Linked DNA regions of Homo sapiens: region 2 is linked to region 1. The links come from fine-mapping of genetic effects on gene expression. Tissue or cell type: B cells. Region 1 holds a variant in brackets; the other region holds the start of a gene. All regions are shown on one strand. Distances are from middle to middle.

The links. PIP is the estimated chance that this variant, and not a neighbour inherited with it, causes the effect.
Region 2: RXRA starts here. The variant in region 1 is fine-mapped to the expression of RXRA in B cells (Fairfax 2012, PIP 0.95).

Annotation. Positions count from the first base shown.
Region 1 is chr9:134,242,245-134,249,897 of GRCh38, reverse strand. No RefSeq gene overlaps it. Among named protein-coding and RNA genes, the nearest start is that of LINC02247, 49 kb to the left of the region's middle. RefSeq lists an enhancer at 5,840-5,959. The variant A/G (reference allele first, on the strand shown) is at 4,499.
Region 2 is chr9:134,322,609-134,330,261 of GRCh38, reverse strand. RXRA (retinoid X receptor alpha) reads right to left here and starts at 3,807. Exons shown (of 10, transcript NM_002957.6): 1 at 3,603-3,807. The coding sequence starts at 3,630. RefSeq lists enhancers at 662-1,591, 1,592-2,521 and silencers at 3,132-3,271, 4,010-4,059, 4,130-4,309.

The DNA.
Region 1 (7,653 bases):
CTGGGATTACAGGCGTGAGCCACCGCACCCGGCCCCTCTTCTTTTAAAGACACCAGCCCTATTGGATTAGGGCCCCCAACCCTTATGATGTCATCTAACCTTAACCATAACTCTCTAAAAGTCCCATCTCCACATATACTCACTGTATGAGTGTTAGGGCTTCAAGATATGAATTTGGAGGGACACAGTTCAGTCCACAATAGTGAGGAAGATGCTGTCACCAGAACAGGTAGTAGAAGCTATGACTACCATGGTCATTCGGCCCAAGACACTGAGGCCAAGAAACCCCACCAGAAACCAGAAACACTTTGGGCCCAAACTGGCCGGGTCCACGGCTGCGTAGGCAGGAAAGGGTGAGGGGACCAGTTACAGGCCAGTGGACAGTCAGGGGCCTGAGGGAGCTGGGTGGCAGAGTGCCCAAGCGCCCAGATCACCAGCCACTAACAGGTAACTGCTGACCAGCACCTACCACGCAGAACAGCACGCCCCCAAACCGGGCAGATTGATGGGTTTTCACAAAATGCTGATCAGTAAGCCGCGACCAGAACCGGAAGCCATCCTCCAGCCATCAGCTGCCCCCACAAAACCATTGTCCTGATTCCCAAAGCCATAGTTAGACTTGCTGGTTTCAAAATCCATGCACGTGGAATCCTCTCTGATGCCCTTTCCTGGCTCCTTCCTATCCGCATGTCATCGGCGTCACTGCATGTAGCTACCATGTCCACCCTCAGGGCTGTGTATACAGCGGTGAATACGCACAATGTATCAATTCTGATAATGGACACATGCGTAGTTCCTGGTTTTGTGCCTAGTTCCAATGGTGGCCGCCTGCTACTGGGTGGTGGGATTGCTGGGCCTTGGGGTCCAAGCGTGTCCAGCTTTGCAGATAACACCTGTTTTCCAGGGGGAGCTGAAGTGGCCCACACACCCATCAGTGGTGTGAGATCCAGCTGCTGTGCACCCTCACCAGCACTGGGTGTGTCCGTGTTTTCGGTTTGACTTGTTCTAGCAGTACCACAGGGCTTTTACTTACATTTCCCTCATAACTAGTGGGGTTGAGCAACTTTTCATATGCTTAATGGCCACTCGGAAATCCAATTCCATTTTTTTTTTTTTTAGACGGAGTTTCGCTCCTATTGCCCAGGCCGGAGTGCAATGGCGCGATCTCGGTTCACCACAACCTCCACCTCCTGGGTTGAAGCGATCCTCCTGCCTCAGCTTCCCGAGCAGCTGGGATTACAGTCATGCGCCACCATGCCCGGCCGGAAATCCAATTCTTAAAAGTGACTGTTCAGACTTGTGCCCCTTTTTCTACTGGTTGTCTTTTGCTTATCCGTCTGTAGGAGTTCTCGCACATCTGGATGTGTCTTTTGTCAGATGTCTAGATGGCAACAGCATTCTCTGCCTCTGTGGCATGCCTTTTCATGTCCTGAAGTAGGTATATTCTCCACAGGACTGAGTGCATATACCCACCAGACACAATTCTTCACTTCCTCATTTCTCTTTCAGGGACCTGCCGTTGTGGCTGGTCCCAAGGCCAGACCCATTCTAGATTCTGGAGTCCCCAGTTAAAGCAAGGAACTCTGTGCTCCCATATCATCCAGTTATAGGAAGCAGGCTTAAACCTGGGGGAGGTAGCCCCTTCAGGAGAGGCAATTCCTGGAGAAGTGCTCAGCTTGGCAACATGGCTAGCAGCTGGGAACATGGGCACTTCAGTCTTAGAGTGGACATTTGGGCAGAACATCATAGCATCCACTACAGTGCCTTACGTGATTGATTTTTCTGCCGTTTTTCTTATACATCTGTTTTAAGGCTATAAATTTGCCTGTGAGCATAGCTTTAGCCACATCCCATAAGTTTTAATATTGCATTTTTAAAATTATCATATACTTCACAATATTTTCTAACTTAATTGTCATTTCTTCTTTGACCCATTTGAAGTGTTATTACTTAATTTCCAAACATTTGGATATGTTCCAGTTTTATTTTTGTTGTGATGGTTATGAGTTTTCAGCTTAAATATCTTATAGTAAGAAAACCTATTCTGAATGATTTCAATCATTTAAAACTTATTTTAGCTGTTTCTGGCCCAGCTTTGGTCAGTGTTGGCTGATGTTTCATATGCACTTGAAAATAATGTCTATTCTGTTGTTGGACACTGTGTTCTATATTTGTCATTTAGTTCAAGTTTGTTCCTCGTATTTGGATCTCCTTTATTTCTGGTGATTTTTTGGTCTGCTTGACCTATTGGTTATAAGAAAAAGTGTGATTATGGATTTGTCCATCTTTTTCCTTTTAGCCAAATTTTTCCTTACATATTTTGAAGCTTCATAATTAGGTGCATAAAAGTTTGTTACATTTTGCTGGTGGTATAATTCTTTTATTATGAAATGTCCATCTTAGCCGGGCATGGTGGCTCATGCCTGTAATCCCAGCACTTTGGGAGGCTGAGGTGGGCAGATCACCTGAGGTCAGGAGTTCAAGACCAGCCTGGCCAACATGGTGAAACCCTGTCTCTACTAAAAATACAAAAATTAGCCAGACATAGTGGTGCACGCCTGTAGTCCCAGTTACTCAGGAGGCTGAGGCAGGAGAATCACTCCAACCCTGGAGGCGGAGGTTGCATGAGCCACGATTGTGCCACTGCACTCCAGCCTGGGCAACAGAGCGAGATTCTGTCTCAAAAAACAGTTCATCTTTATTTTTTGTAATACTTTTTGCCTCCAAGTTTATACTAGCTGGTGTTATAGAGACATCTTTCTTTTGGTCAGTGTTTTCATAAAACATCTTTCTACCTTTTTACTCTTTCTAGTTCAAACTTTCTTTCTTTTTTTCTTCTTTTTCTTTTTTTTTTTCTTTTTTTCTTTTTTATTTTTTTATTTTTTTTTGAGACAGAGTCTCGCTCTGTCGCCCAGCCTGGAGTGCAGTGGTGTGATCTTGGCTCACTGCAACCTCCGCCTCCTGGGTTCAAGCGATTCTCCTGCCTCAGCCTCCTGAGTAGCTGGGACTACAGGTGCCCGCCACCACACCCAGCTAATTTTTGTATTTTTAGTAGAGATGGGATTTTACCATGTTGGCTAGGATAGTCTCGATCTCTTGACCTCAGGTGATCCACCTGCCTTGGCCTCCCAAAGTGCTGGGATGACAGGCGTGAGCCACCACGCCCAGCCTAATTTTTAAATTTTTTGTAGACACAGGGTCTCCCTGTGTGGCCCAGGCTGGTCTTTCACTCCTAGGCTCAAGCAACCCAACTGCCTTGGCCTTTCAAAGTGTTGGGATTACAGGTGTGAGCCACTGCTCCTGGCCAAGAAATCGTTATTATTTGAAAAGTCGGTACTTATTTACCTTGACCCAGATCTTTACCTGTTCCGTGGCTCGTCACTGTTTCCTGCATATCCACGTCTCTATCTGGGATGATTTCTCTTCTGCCTGGAGAACCCCTTTAGTATTTCTTGTAGTTTAGGTCTGTTGGAAATTGATTATCTTGGTTTTTATTTTGCTGGAAAAGTGTTTATTTTGCTTTCACTTTTGTTTTGGTGGTCATCTAGGGCTAAAGGCCTTAACACGGCCAATCACTAGTATTTATTGAGCAACTAAAAACTTTACATGCTGTTGTTCATCAGCTCCTATGAGACAGATGAGATGGGTGTTACTCCTGTCCCCATTTGTCCATGTGGAACCTGAGGCTCAGCGTGGTTCAGTAACTTGCCCAGGGTCACACAGTGTATTAGTGAGTATTCTCCGCAGACACAGGGCAAATAGGAGACATACGTTCACATCACTTTCTATGTATATTCCTACTGATCTATAAAATAAGGAATTGTGCACGTGACCATGGAGGCTGACAAGTCTCAACATCTGCAGCAGGCAAAGTGGAGACCCAGGAGTGCCAATGGTGTAAGCGTCAGTTCAAGGGCAAGGGAAGACCGAAGTCCCAGCTCCACAGCCAGGCAGGGCAACTCTTTCCTTCTCAGGATTGGATGAGGCCCACTCACACTGGGAGGAAAATTGGCTTCACACTGCCCACCAATCAGATGTTAATCTCATCCAGACTGCCCACCAATCAAATGTTAATCTCATCCAGAATGATGTTTGACCAAATGCCTGGGCACACCGTAACCCATTCAGGTTGTCACGTAAGTTTTTTTTTTTTTTTGAGATGGAGTCTCACTGTGTTGTCCAGGCTGGAGTGCGGTGGCATGATCTCGGCCCACTGCAACATCCGCCTCCTAGGTTCAAGCGATTCTTCTGCCTCAGCCTCCCGAGTAGCTGGACTACAGGCATGCGCCACCACACCCAGCTAATTTTTGTATCTTCAGTAAAGATGGGGTTTCACCATATTGGTCAGGCTGGTCTCAAACTCCTGACCTCAGGCGATCCACCCACCTCAACCTCCCAAAGTGCTGGGATTACAAGCACAAGCCACCGCGCCCGGCCAGGTTGACACATAAGATTAATCATTGCTCACAGTTACTAAGCGGCAGAGCTGGGGTTCGAA[A/G]CTAGCATTTCAGGCACTGTGCCCCACACTCGGCTTCATGGCTCACCAGCCTGCCAGGTGGACACGCCCAGTCTCGCTCTTCCTGTCTCCACCCACTGTGTGTGTGCACCTGCCATGTGCCAGGGGGCACGGAGGGGCACAAGTTGTGTTTCCATCGCCTAGATTTCCCCAGCTCATGGTGGAGATGGACACATCCAAAACTCTGATCTGAGATGAGTCTCCTTGGTATCTGAAGGATGTCCTTCCTCTCTGGGTCTAGAACTCTGGAGTGACAGCTCTTTTCTTCCAGCACCGTAAACACGTTGCTCCCTTGTCTTCTGGAGCCCATCATTTCTGCTGAAAAATAATCTTATTGTCCCCTTGAAGGTAATTTGTCTATTTGTCTTTACCTCCAGCTACTTTTAAGATTTCTGTATTTGGATTACAGTAGTTTTACCATAATATGCCTAGGTGGCTTCTCCCTGGACCTAGCCTGCTTAGCCTGTGGAGAGCTTCTATCTGGGGTTTGTTTTCTTTCATCGATTTTGGAAAATCCTCAGCCATTCTATCTTCAAACATTGCTTTTTCCCTATCCTCTCTCTTTCTCTTTCTCTCTCTCTCCCTCCTAAAATTCCTGTTACCTGCATGATGGAGCTGCTCCCCAGACCCCATGTGTATGGCATGCTCTGTCTGTTTCTTATCCTTTTCTACTCACTCTGTTTCTTCCTAGTTTTTTTCCTGACTTATCATTTCACTTTATTAAAACTCTATTTCCTAGCCTACTGTTAAGCCTGTCTATTAAGTTTCTAATTTTAATCATTGCATTTTTCTAGAATTTCCATTTTGTAATAGATTCCAGTTGTCTAGCAAAATTCTCTGTTTTATCATCCATTTGCTCGAATAATAATTTGAAAGCCCATCTGTGATGCTACCAATAGCTGAGCAGTCTGTGGGGCTGTTGCTGTCATCATTTTTTTTCTCTGGGTCCTGTTTCTTGGTTTTCCTTGACATTTGTGAAGGCTTGGCTATACCTCTGGTTCCCTTTCATAGCGATTAAGCTTCCTGGCATCCCGGCTGAGAGCCTGGAGCGTCTTCTAGAGCTTCTCCTCCTTGGCAAGTCCTAAGCTCTCATTCTGGGCTACCTGACACTCTAGAAATTCTGACACCTCAGTAGCTTTCTTCTGGGCTTCTTAGCTTCTTGCTCTGCACACGTTCATCCACCAAACAGCTAGAAGGGAAACCTCTGAGCATCAAACTCACTTATTTTCACCACCTTTCTCCCCAGGATCTTCAGATCGCCACTCAATTTTTGGCTACCTTGACAGGTCCAAACTCCAGTGTCAGCCCTGTGAAACTCCGCTGGCTTCCCTTCCTCTTCACGGGTGTTTATGGTCTCTTGTCTTGCAGCAGGAGTTGGGAAATCCCCTGAATGAAAAGCGAGCAACAGCGTTGGCTCATCTCTCCGCGGTTCCCCTTTTGCTGAGATCTCAGCCCTTTGAGTCCCGATTGGCTCAGCTGCTCACCAGTGTCTTCAAAAAGAGCATTCGTATTTTACCCAGCTTGTCTACGTAGTGATCTATGCTGGCTACTTCATAACAGCCAGAAGCAATAGTCATTAAGTGGTATTTTAATTAACTATATTGGCATTTTATATATATATATATACACACACACACACACACACACACATACGCACACTATGTTCAGCACTACAGAGTCCAAATACAAGACACTTTTACCAAGTATTTTATTTGTAAAGGCATCCCAAAGGTAAGATGTCAACACGCAAGATTGGAGTGTGGAGGTGACGCTCATCCAACTTCTTTATTTCTTTTTTTTTTTTTTTTTGAGACAGACTCTTGCTCTGTCACCCAGGCTGGAGTGCAGTGGCATGATCTTGGCTCACTGCAACCTCCGCCTCCCGAGTTCCAGTGATTCTCCTGCCTCAGCTTCCTGAGTAGCTGGGATAACAGGCACACGCCGCCACCATGCCTGGATTTTTTTTTGTATTTTTAGTAGAGATGGGTTTTCGCCATGTTGGCCAGGCTGGTCTCAAACTCCTGGCCTCAAGTGATCTGCCCGCCTCAGCCTCCCAAAGTGCTAGGATTACAGGCATGAGCCACCGCGCCCAGCCTATATTTCTGATTATAAAAAAATTGCAGCAATGGTCGCCATGGTCCACGCATCAGCCAGCGCCTGCTGGGCTTTACACAGCTCTCCTGTCTCCCTCACAGCAAGTCCAGGGGGAGGGTCTAGGAGGCCCCGTTGGGAAGTGACACTCGGGATTTGAGCTCTGGCATGCCTGAATCCCTGAGCCGCTGCGTCCTCCTGGCTCCCTGCAGGAAGATTTCTCCCATGCTGTTTATTTTCAGGATGGTCCCTGAAACGTAAGGGACCCGACAGCCACCACGGCGAGGAAGGCGCAGAAGGGGCAGCACGGAGCCGTGAGCCACAGAGATGCTGCAGCCTGGACCAGCCATCATCAGACAGGCGTGTGCCGTCAGCGCTCAACGTGTGAGAAAGCACAGAGCCAGGCCCTTCCCAAGACCCCACTATGAACCCGATTGCTTCGGCCTGGCTGCCTTCCTCCAAAGGGGTGCAGGCGGGGCCCACGGGACCCCAGTTCTCTAGTCTCGCCTGACTCTAGGCAGAACTCTAGTGGCTCTGATCTCTGGGCAGAACTGACTCAAGAGCCACTGAAGAGACCTTCGCCTGGGGTCCTAGACTGGGCTGCAAGGAGTCTTTGAATCTCTTGAGATTGTGCACTAAGTATTTACCTGCACGCATTTTTCCAGGAAGAGGGCCTGCGGCTTGCATCATATCCCCACCGTGGTCTGTGACCAAGAAAGTAGTCAGCATCTTTAGGCTAGAGGAGGCGGGAGCCCCGGATTCCAATCGCAGTTCTCCCTGGCTGTGTGAGCTTGATTTGTCCTTTCTCTCTCTGAGCCCTGATTCTGCCTCTTTTCTGCAAGGACCTTGATCGCTGGGGGCGGCAGGGCTCTGTCTGCTGAACCCCAGATCCCTCTGCACTTTCCCTGCTCTGCTCAGTAGCGTGGGGCACTGGCCCAGCAAAGTTCATTTCCAGGTTCTTGTTGTGTTCTGACCCTGAGAGGCTCTGGCCGGGACTGGGAGGGTGGGAGGGTGGGAGGCCCAGGTATCTGCCCACATCTCTGCTT
Region 2 (7,653 bases), 80 kb before region 1:
GAGGGGCAGGTCTTGGCTTGCAAAGCCCGGGTCCCAGGGACAGTGTCCCAGCCCTGAGCCAGCTGGGGGTTGGGGAGGGCCTCTGCCCTGTGTCTGCTGGGACAGCTGTGCCCTCTTCTCCAGAGGACAGGCATTGCTCACCACTCGAGGTCCCAGCCCTGAAACATTTGACCCATGGCAAAACCAAACGTCACCCAAGAAAGGAAACTCCCCAGGCAGCCTCCACTGGCACTGGGTGGACCTGTAAAGCTTTCACCCCGCCCCCACACCACCTTCCATGCAGCTGAGGTCTGTCCCACCCTCTCCTGATGCCAGAGCCCCCTGCCACATGCACGACCAGGCCCCAGGGGCAGAGGGGCACACCCCTGAGTACCCCCTGTTCCCACAGTAATTCCACAGCAAATCCTGCAGGCACCCTTTCCCAGGGGAGGAAACAAAGACCACTGACAGCGACCTCCCACACAGCCACGGGGGAGATGGGGCAGGGGCCAAGAGAGGGCAGTCAGAGGGGCCTCCTGGTGGAGGTGAGCCCCCCACAGGCCCTGAAGGACAGGCACAGCTGGAAGAACCACCAGGTGCTGGCAGAGCCGGGAGCCAGTCACAGCAGCTGCCCGCGTGACCAGGGCTGCCGGCTCAACCTGCACCCCACACCCCAAGGGACTCAGAGCACCCGCCCCCCACCAGCCCTTCCTAGGGGCCCAGCTCGTCCCATCCACATCTGGGCAGAGGGTCACAGCTGCATGCTCGGGTCCAGGCCCAGCAGCCAGCCCTAGGCAAGGTTGGAGGCTAGCAAGCCAGGGCCACCATCGGACTGGGCCATTTTTCTCTCCCTGACACCTCCCCAGTCAACAAACAGGGCCCCTCCAGAGTTTACCAAAACAAACACCCTGCCGTCGGGCAGCGCCCGCGCTAAAAGACGCCCTCGTCAGGCCCGAGCGGGACTCCAAGCCCAGCCTCCTGAGAGTCACATGACCCTGTTATTTCGGGAGGCCCCGGAATGTGCTCTATTTTGGGTCCCAAGGGCTCTGATGTTACCAGAAGCCCCTCACACAGGCTGCAAGCTCACCCAGGCCCCCAAGTGCCCCAACTCCAAGAGTGGTCAGCGGGCCTACAGCTTTGCCACCGGGTCTCTCCACAGGCGCATGGGGTCTGGTGTGGTCTGAGACCTTTGGACTCTGTGGACTCCGCCTGAGTCCCACCATTCAGGATAAGGCCAGCGGGGGCCTTCTCCCCGGCAGGCGTGGGAGCGCGGCCAGCCCCGGGCAGCAGGGCCAGGAAGCTGGGGCTGCCTCTGGCGAGTCCCTCGGCCTTGCTTTCCTTCCAGATCTGGACGCTGCACTCATCCCTGCCCTCACTGAGCGGCTCGGTGGACACCGACTGGGATCCTCTCCCTGCCCACCAAGCCCAGCGGTAGTGAATGCTGGGAGGAGGAAGCCCTCTCTACCCCAGACCCCAAAAGCGGCTGGGCAGCTGTAAGGGGTGGCCGAGTCTCCCCAGCAGCTCCAGGTCTGACCGGTCGGCCAGCCGGGCCAAGACAAGCCAGGCCCTCCACCACCACTCACCCCGAGGAGGGATTAGGCTGTGTTGACAAAAGGGCTTAGAAAAGTAGCCGCTTAAATGGACCTTCGACTGCTCTGGACTTCAGAGCTGGTCACAAGCTTAGAAAAAAAATAAAATGTAATCAGAGCCCAGGGCTCTCTGCTCAGCCCTGGGGCGTGGGCTGCCTGGGAGGCCATGGGCCGGTCGGGAGAGCTGCTGCTCGAGAACAGAAGACTCCTAGCTTCCTTGTGGCAGGGGAGTGCCCAGGGAGATCCCTGGGGCAGTGGCTCGGAGGCACGACCTCTCCTCCTCACAGGGACTCCAGCAAGCCACCATGGCGACTGGGCACCCCTTGCTCCCTCGCCCTACATCCACCAACTCCGTGGACTATCCCTGTCCCACCCGGAGCATTAGAAACAGGGACCTGTTCGGTTCTCAGTACTCAGCTGAAGTGCAACCAGCCAGGCCCCTGCCACGTCCAGGGGCCAGACACTGAGCTGAGCATTCTTGTTCCAGAGGAATCGTCTGGGAGAGCCTAGCTCTGTGTGTGTGGATGTGTGTGTGCACATGTGTGAGTGCAAAGCTTTAACAGGGAAAGGCAGCCCCAGCCCACTCCACACTGCACTCGGTCACAGACAGCGCAGCATTCCCTCCTGCCTCACACTCAGCAGTACCACGAGCTGGGGGTGCTAATCCCAAATCCACCACCTTGTATCCTGGGGGCTCAGCCTCTCCCAGCCAGTTTTCTCATCTGCAAAATGGGCATGAGCGCCCACCCCTGGAGGCTGAGCCCTGGAGCTCATTCAAGGCCTCGAGCCCACCACTCCATCATGACAGAGGCAGGGAGTAAGCGTTAGGTCTGACAAACCTGGAACCCACCGCCTGCCCCGGTCACGGGGCAGCACACCTGCCTGTGAGTAGCAGAGGTACTCAGACTCTCACCCTCACATCCAGGAGGGGCTAGGTCCATGCTGGCTCCCCTTGATGCCCCATCTCACTAAACATCCCTGCAGCTACATTGGCTTCTGAGCACCTCCTGGGGTGGCCAAGCTGCACCCCAGGCTGCAGGGAGGGTGGGCAGGAGGGGCTACGGATGGCGGGGGCTTCATTCATAATCAGCTGTTTCGATTTCCATTCAGCACAAATCCTTCACCCGGCCTGACAGCCTGGCTGCCGTCCCACCACCAAATTAATATCCTTCCCGGAGCTAATTTATAAAGTCTCCCCCTTCTCACTAGCTTCCAAACCCTTGGGAGGGCAATGGGTGGGGGCCCCAGCCATGCCCTCTCCCCCTTCTCGGTAGGTCTGGGCCTGGAGTTGGCGGGCAGTCTGGGATAGGAAGCTACCGGGCGGGATGGCAGGAGGAGGAGGGAAACTGACCCTACGCGCCTCTGCGCTGTCCTGCTCACAAATGGAGAGCCAGCCTGGGAGAACACCCGGGGGTGCCAGAGTGAGGGGCCCCATTTCTGGAATGGGGCCTTCCCAGGTCTGACGTTCTGTTCATACAGCCCCGGGGGACCCTGCCCACCCGGGCGTGGGCTGCTTTGGGGATAACAGGGTCCCAGTCTGTTTCCTGGGCGGACACACACCCAAGGGCCAGCGGCCTGCTAGAAGCCGCAGCCCGACGGGCGGGCGGCGCAGAGGCCGCTCGGGGCCCAGCGCGCCGTCCCGGTCCCCAGGCCAGGGAGGCCGGAGCCGCGGAGCGCAGAAGTTGCTCCTCCCGCTCCGGCCGGGTTCCTGTGCGGCGCGGCTGCAGCTGGGCGCCGGGGCGCAGGCGGCCGCCGGTGAGCGGGAGACCCCTCCTCGTCCCGGGCGAACCTGCCACCCGCCCCCCGGCCCCGCCGCCCGCCCGCTGCCCAGCCCCGCCCCGGCCCCGCGAAAAGTTGCCCCGGGTCGACCCTCCCCGGGCCCGGCGCCCGAACTCACGCGAAGGTCGGCGAGGGGTCCGAGCGGGGCCCGGGCCGGCGACCCCCCGCGCGCGCCGCCAACGCGCCCCCGGCCCCCTCCCGCCCGCCGGCCCCCGGCCCCCGGCCCCGTCCCCGCCCGGCCCGGCGAGCACTCACCGAGCGGCAGGAAATGTTTGGTGTCCATGTCTGCGACTAACTCATGCCCGGCCGGCGGCGCAGGCAGCGGGCGGCGGGCGCGGCGGCCCCCGGCGCGGCCGGCCCGGGCCCGGGCGGCGGGGAGCCGGCGGCTGCGGTGGCGGCGGCGGCGCGCGGAGGCCGCGGCGCGGCGAGTTGTTGCAAAAGTCGCCCAACAATGTAAACTACTTGTGTCTGCGCGCCGCCGCCGCGCGCGCCCGGCCCGCGCCCCCGCCGCCGCGCGCCCGCGCCCCGCTCCGACCGCGGCGCTGCGGCGCCGGCGGGGGGGTGGCGGGGGGCCCGCGACGGGCGCTGACTCGGCGCAGCGCCGCCGCCACCGCTCGGCCCGCGCCCCGCCCGCCCAGCCCCGCCCGGAGCGCGCCCCCCTCCGCCGCCGCCGCCCCGCGATCGCCGCCCGCCCGGCCGCCGAGTTGAGAGCGCCGTGCAAACTTGCGAGTTCGCCTCCGCCAGGGGTTCCCGGGAGCCGCGAGGAGGCGGCGTGGGAGGGGGCGGGGCGCAGAGGGAGCGGGGCGGGGGCGGGGGCGGGAGCAGAACTCCCTCCCCGGGCCCGCCACACACTCGCGCACACACACACTTGCGCGCAAGGGCCCGGAGGAGGCGGAGAGCCGGGCCGGGAGCCCAGCGGCCGGGCCATTGTCTGCGCGGCCACACAAAGCGGCCGGGCGGTGGCCGCGAGGGGACCCCGGCCCGGGCCAGGCAAGCGCAGAGCCGGGCGGGATGGCCGCGGCACCCATACCTCGCACCCCGCCGCGGCGGACACGTGGGGAAACTGAGGCCCGGGAGTGGCGATGTGCCCCAACGGCAGAGGACAAGCTCCTCGTCCGGGGAAGGTTTCGTCTTCCGGACGCTACCCCCGGTCCACCCCACACTTTCACGCCCTACCCCCACGGAGAGACCCACGAGCCCACCGGGAACGAGGAGGGGTGCGCGCTTCGCCTCCTCATCGACCCGCACTCCTGGGACCCCTCTTCAAAGGCACCAGGCTGGGCAGGCGCTGCCCGGAGTTGGACACAGACTTTGTGGCCGGTGGCTATTTTTATACCCTGGGTAGTTCTCTGCCTGACTTTTAAATTCACGATTTGTTTGAAAACGAAAGGAAGCACTCCTGCCCCGGGACAGCTCGGGCCGCCTCCGCCGCGCGCCGCCCGCCGCCCGCCGTCTCGGGCGGCTGGAATTCGGATTTGGGTGTGAGCTACCTGCGCGCCGCCAAGCCCAGCCTTCCTGAGCAGGCGCCGAGGCGCCCCGCCGCGCCCTCCCTCCGCACCCCCACCGCGAGCTTGCTGACCACCTAGACCTAAGGGCCCGGGCTGCGAGGCACAGGGACTGACCATTCACGCAGGCTGCGCGTGGTGGCCCGGGTCAGGGGACGCTAATGGGGAGGGAGGTGAGGAGGTGATGACCGCGTGTGGACAGCCATGACACGGCCCAAAGATAACAGCCCGAGACCAGAGAGGTGTCCTGCTGCCTGGGTGCCCCTCAAGTCGGGCCACCCGGAGCTGGGTTCCACGAGGGCTCCGGTGGCCTGTTCCGGTGGGAGGTCTTGGTTCCACTTGGGACAGAAGTGCCCTGGTTGGGCAGCCCACCCCCAGCACAGCCAGAGCCCAAGGCAGCCCTCTCCCCCTCCCCCTCTTCACTGACCCCTGGGCCCCTACCAAAGGCCACCCCGTCCCCCTATTCACACACCCTGTCCAACAGGCAGCCTGCCCCACTCCCTCCGGGATGAGGGCCACTGTTGACACCTGGTCCTCACCCACTGTGGTTACAGCCACAACAGACCCACTTCCCCACTGCACATGGCATGCCGGCCCAACCCACTGCCCTTCTAAAACTGAGTTCCTCCTGCCAGGGAGGGGGGCGGCAAACAAAGGATAGGACTGAGAAAGAGCCCCCGTAAGCACCAACATACACTGCAAAAGTGCCATGTGCCCGCCGCGTTCCAGGCCTGTCTCTGTGACTGCTTGGGCCCCTCCTGACTGTACTCAGGTTGGGGGGTTGGGGGGGAGTCCCAGATAGACAAGGCCTGGGCCAGATTGCAGGTCCACCTCCTACCAACCGTGTGGCCTAGCTGGGTCACTTCCCTCCTTGTATCTCAGTTTTCTCATCTGTAAAGTGGGAACAACCACTCCCTCCTCACTGAGTCACTGAGATGACTAAGTGAGATAATATGGAGAGTCTGCGCTCGGGAGGACGAGCTCGGTGTGACAGTTATTGTGATGATGATGATGATGAAATGACGCTGAATTAGGCAGGCCGTTCGCCTATGCTCAGTGCAGGGAGAGCAAGGCTCTATCCAGCCAAAGGGCTCAGGCAGCTTTTGGGATCACTGGTTCTTGAGTCAGGTTTTGGAGCAGGGAGGTTCCATCAGGCAGTGGCCGCCCAGGCAGCAGGGCCGGCTGAGCAGCGGCCTGCAGAGAGAAGGAGCAGCAGGCCGCGGACGGCAGGTCAGGACACGCCAGGCAATGGTGGGAAGGCTGGGCTGAAGTGTCTGAGGTCACCTCCCAATAGTGGGCGGTGTGGCATGCTGGACTCTCCACCCCACCCCCATCTCACTCCTTGTCCCTGAAAACTCAAGACTCAGGAGCTGTTGGTGCCTGGAGTCGGGGAGGCACATGCAGACAGATTTCCATGTGGGTTCCTCCTGGGAAGGCTGAAGGTTCCAGAAGGGCCCTCTGTTCCTAAGAAACACCGGAAGGCGTCATCCCCTGCTCTAGAGACCACGTGGAGAGCGCACGGAGTCCGGAGTCCTGCAGATCTGGGCTCACATCCAGCCTCTGTGCCCACAGACGGTGAATGGCTCTCAGCCCCGCCCTTCTCTTCCATGGGGCAGGGGCCTGGGTGCTCGGCCGCCGAAAACACACCAGGTCCTTGATGGAAAATGACGATGCCGCTTGTTATTTCTGTGGCCACTACTTTTTATCCTCCCCCTCAGTTTGGAGCTTTTTGGTGCAAATGATTCTACACGAAACCTCCCGGGATAGTGGCTGCCCCATATGAAATGGCCAGGTCTGAGCCAGCCATGGAAAAAAACACCCCAGCCTTCCCACCATGTGCTGCTACAGCCAAAACTATTTTTATAGTAGTATCCATTTATTCACAACCTGCGATCTAAGAAGGTTTTGTTTTTTTGTTTTTTTGTTTGGGTCTTTTTTTTTTTAATTTCCCTGAGGGACGCTTTTTAAGGTACTTTGGCCTATTTCATATGCCTGTCTCGGCTCAGTCTTGTAAACAGTCCCGGGAATTGCTTGTTGAATAATATTTTTAAAGGCTGGTCTCTGTGCTGGCTGAGCATGAGGAAGCTGGCGTCTGGGTGGACTGCTCCCAGAAGTTCCCAGGACACCAACGGGGCTCTAAGCTGCTTCCAGAGGTTCCCTGTGGTCCTGAGCTGGTCACTAGCAGGACCTCACAGGGGTTTGGGGAGCTCAGCCTCCAACAAGGGAGGCCAAGGGCTTGGGTACTGCTGGGCAAGGTGGCCCGATCTGTCCCCAAGCACCTCAGCCTAAGGGGACTCTCTCTCACATCCGTTGTGGCTCCTTTGGGGACAACACCTTTTGTCTGTGGTGACCGATGATGACTCGAGCTGGGAAGTAGAGCCGAAAGCTCAGAGAGGCAAGGGGCCACCCGGCAGGTCCACATGGAACTGGGACTAGGCCCAGGGGTCCCAGCCCGAACCCCCTTTCTCAGTCATAGCTTGTCTCTCCATCAGTCTAGAGGGAAACACTCAAGCCACTTGTCCACACCTGGGCTCCAGTCTGTTCTGCTGAGTGGAGAGGAAGAGAAAGGATAGGAGGGAGGGGAGAGGAGAGGACAGGAGGGGAGGAGGAGGAAGAGAAGAGGACCCCTCTGCTCCTGGGTCTGGCCCTCTGGCAAAATGTTTGCAGGCCTGCAGGGCAGTCACCACTGACAGCGTCTGCCCTGGTAGCAGTCAGCTGGCTGGCCCTGCACACCCCAAACCCAAAGCAGTGCAGGGGAAGAGAAAGGTGAGGTCCTCCGAAGGCCAGCCGCTGCCTCCGTC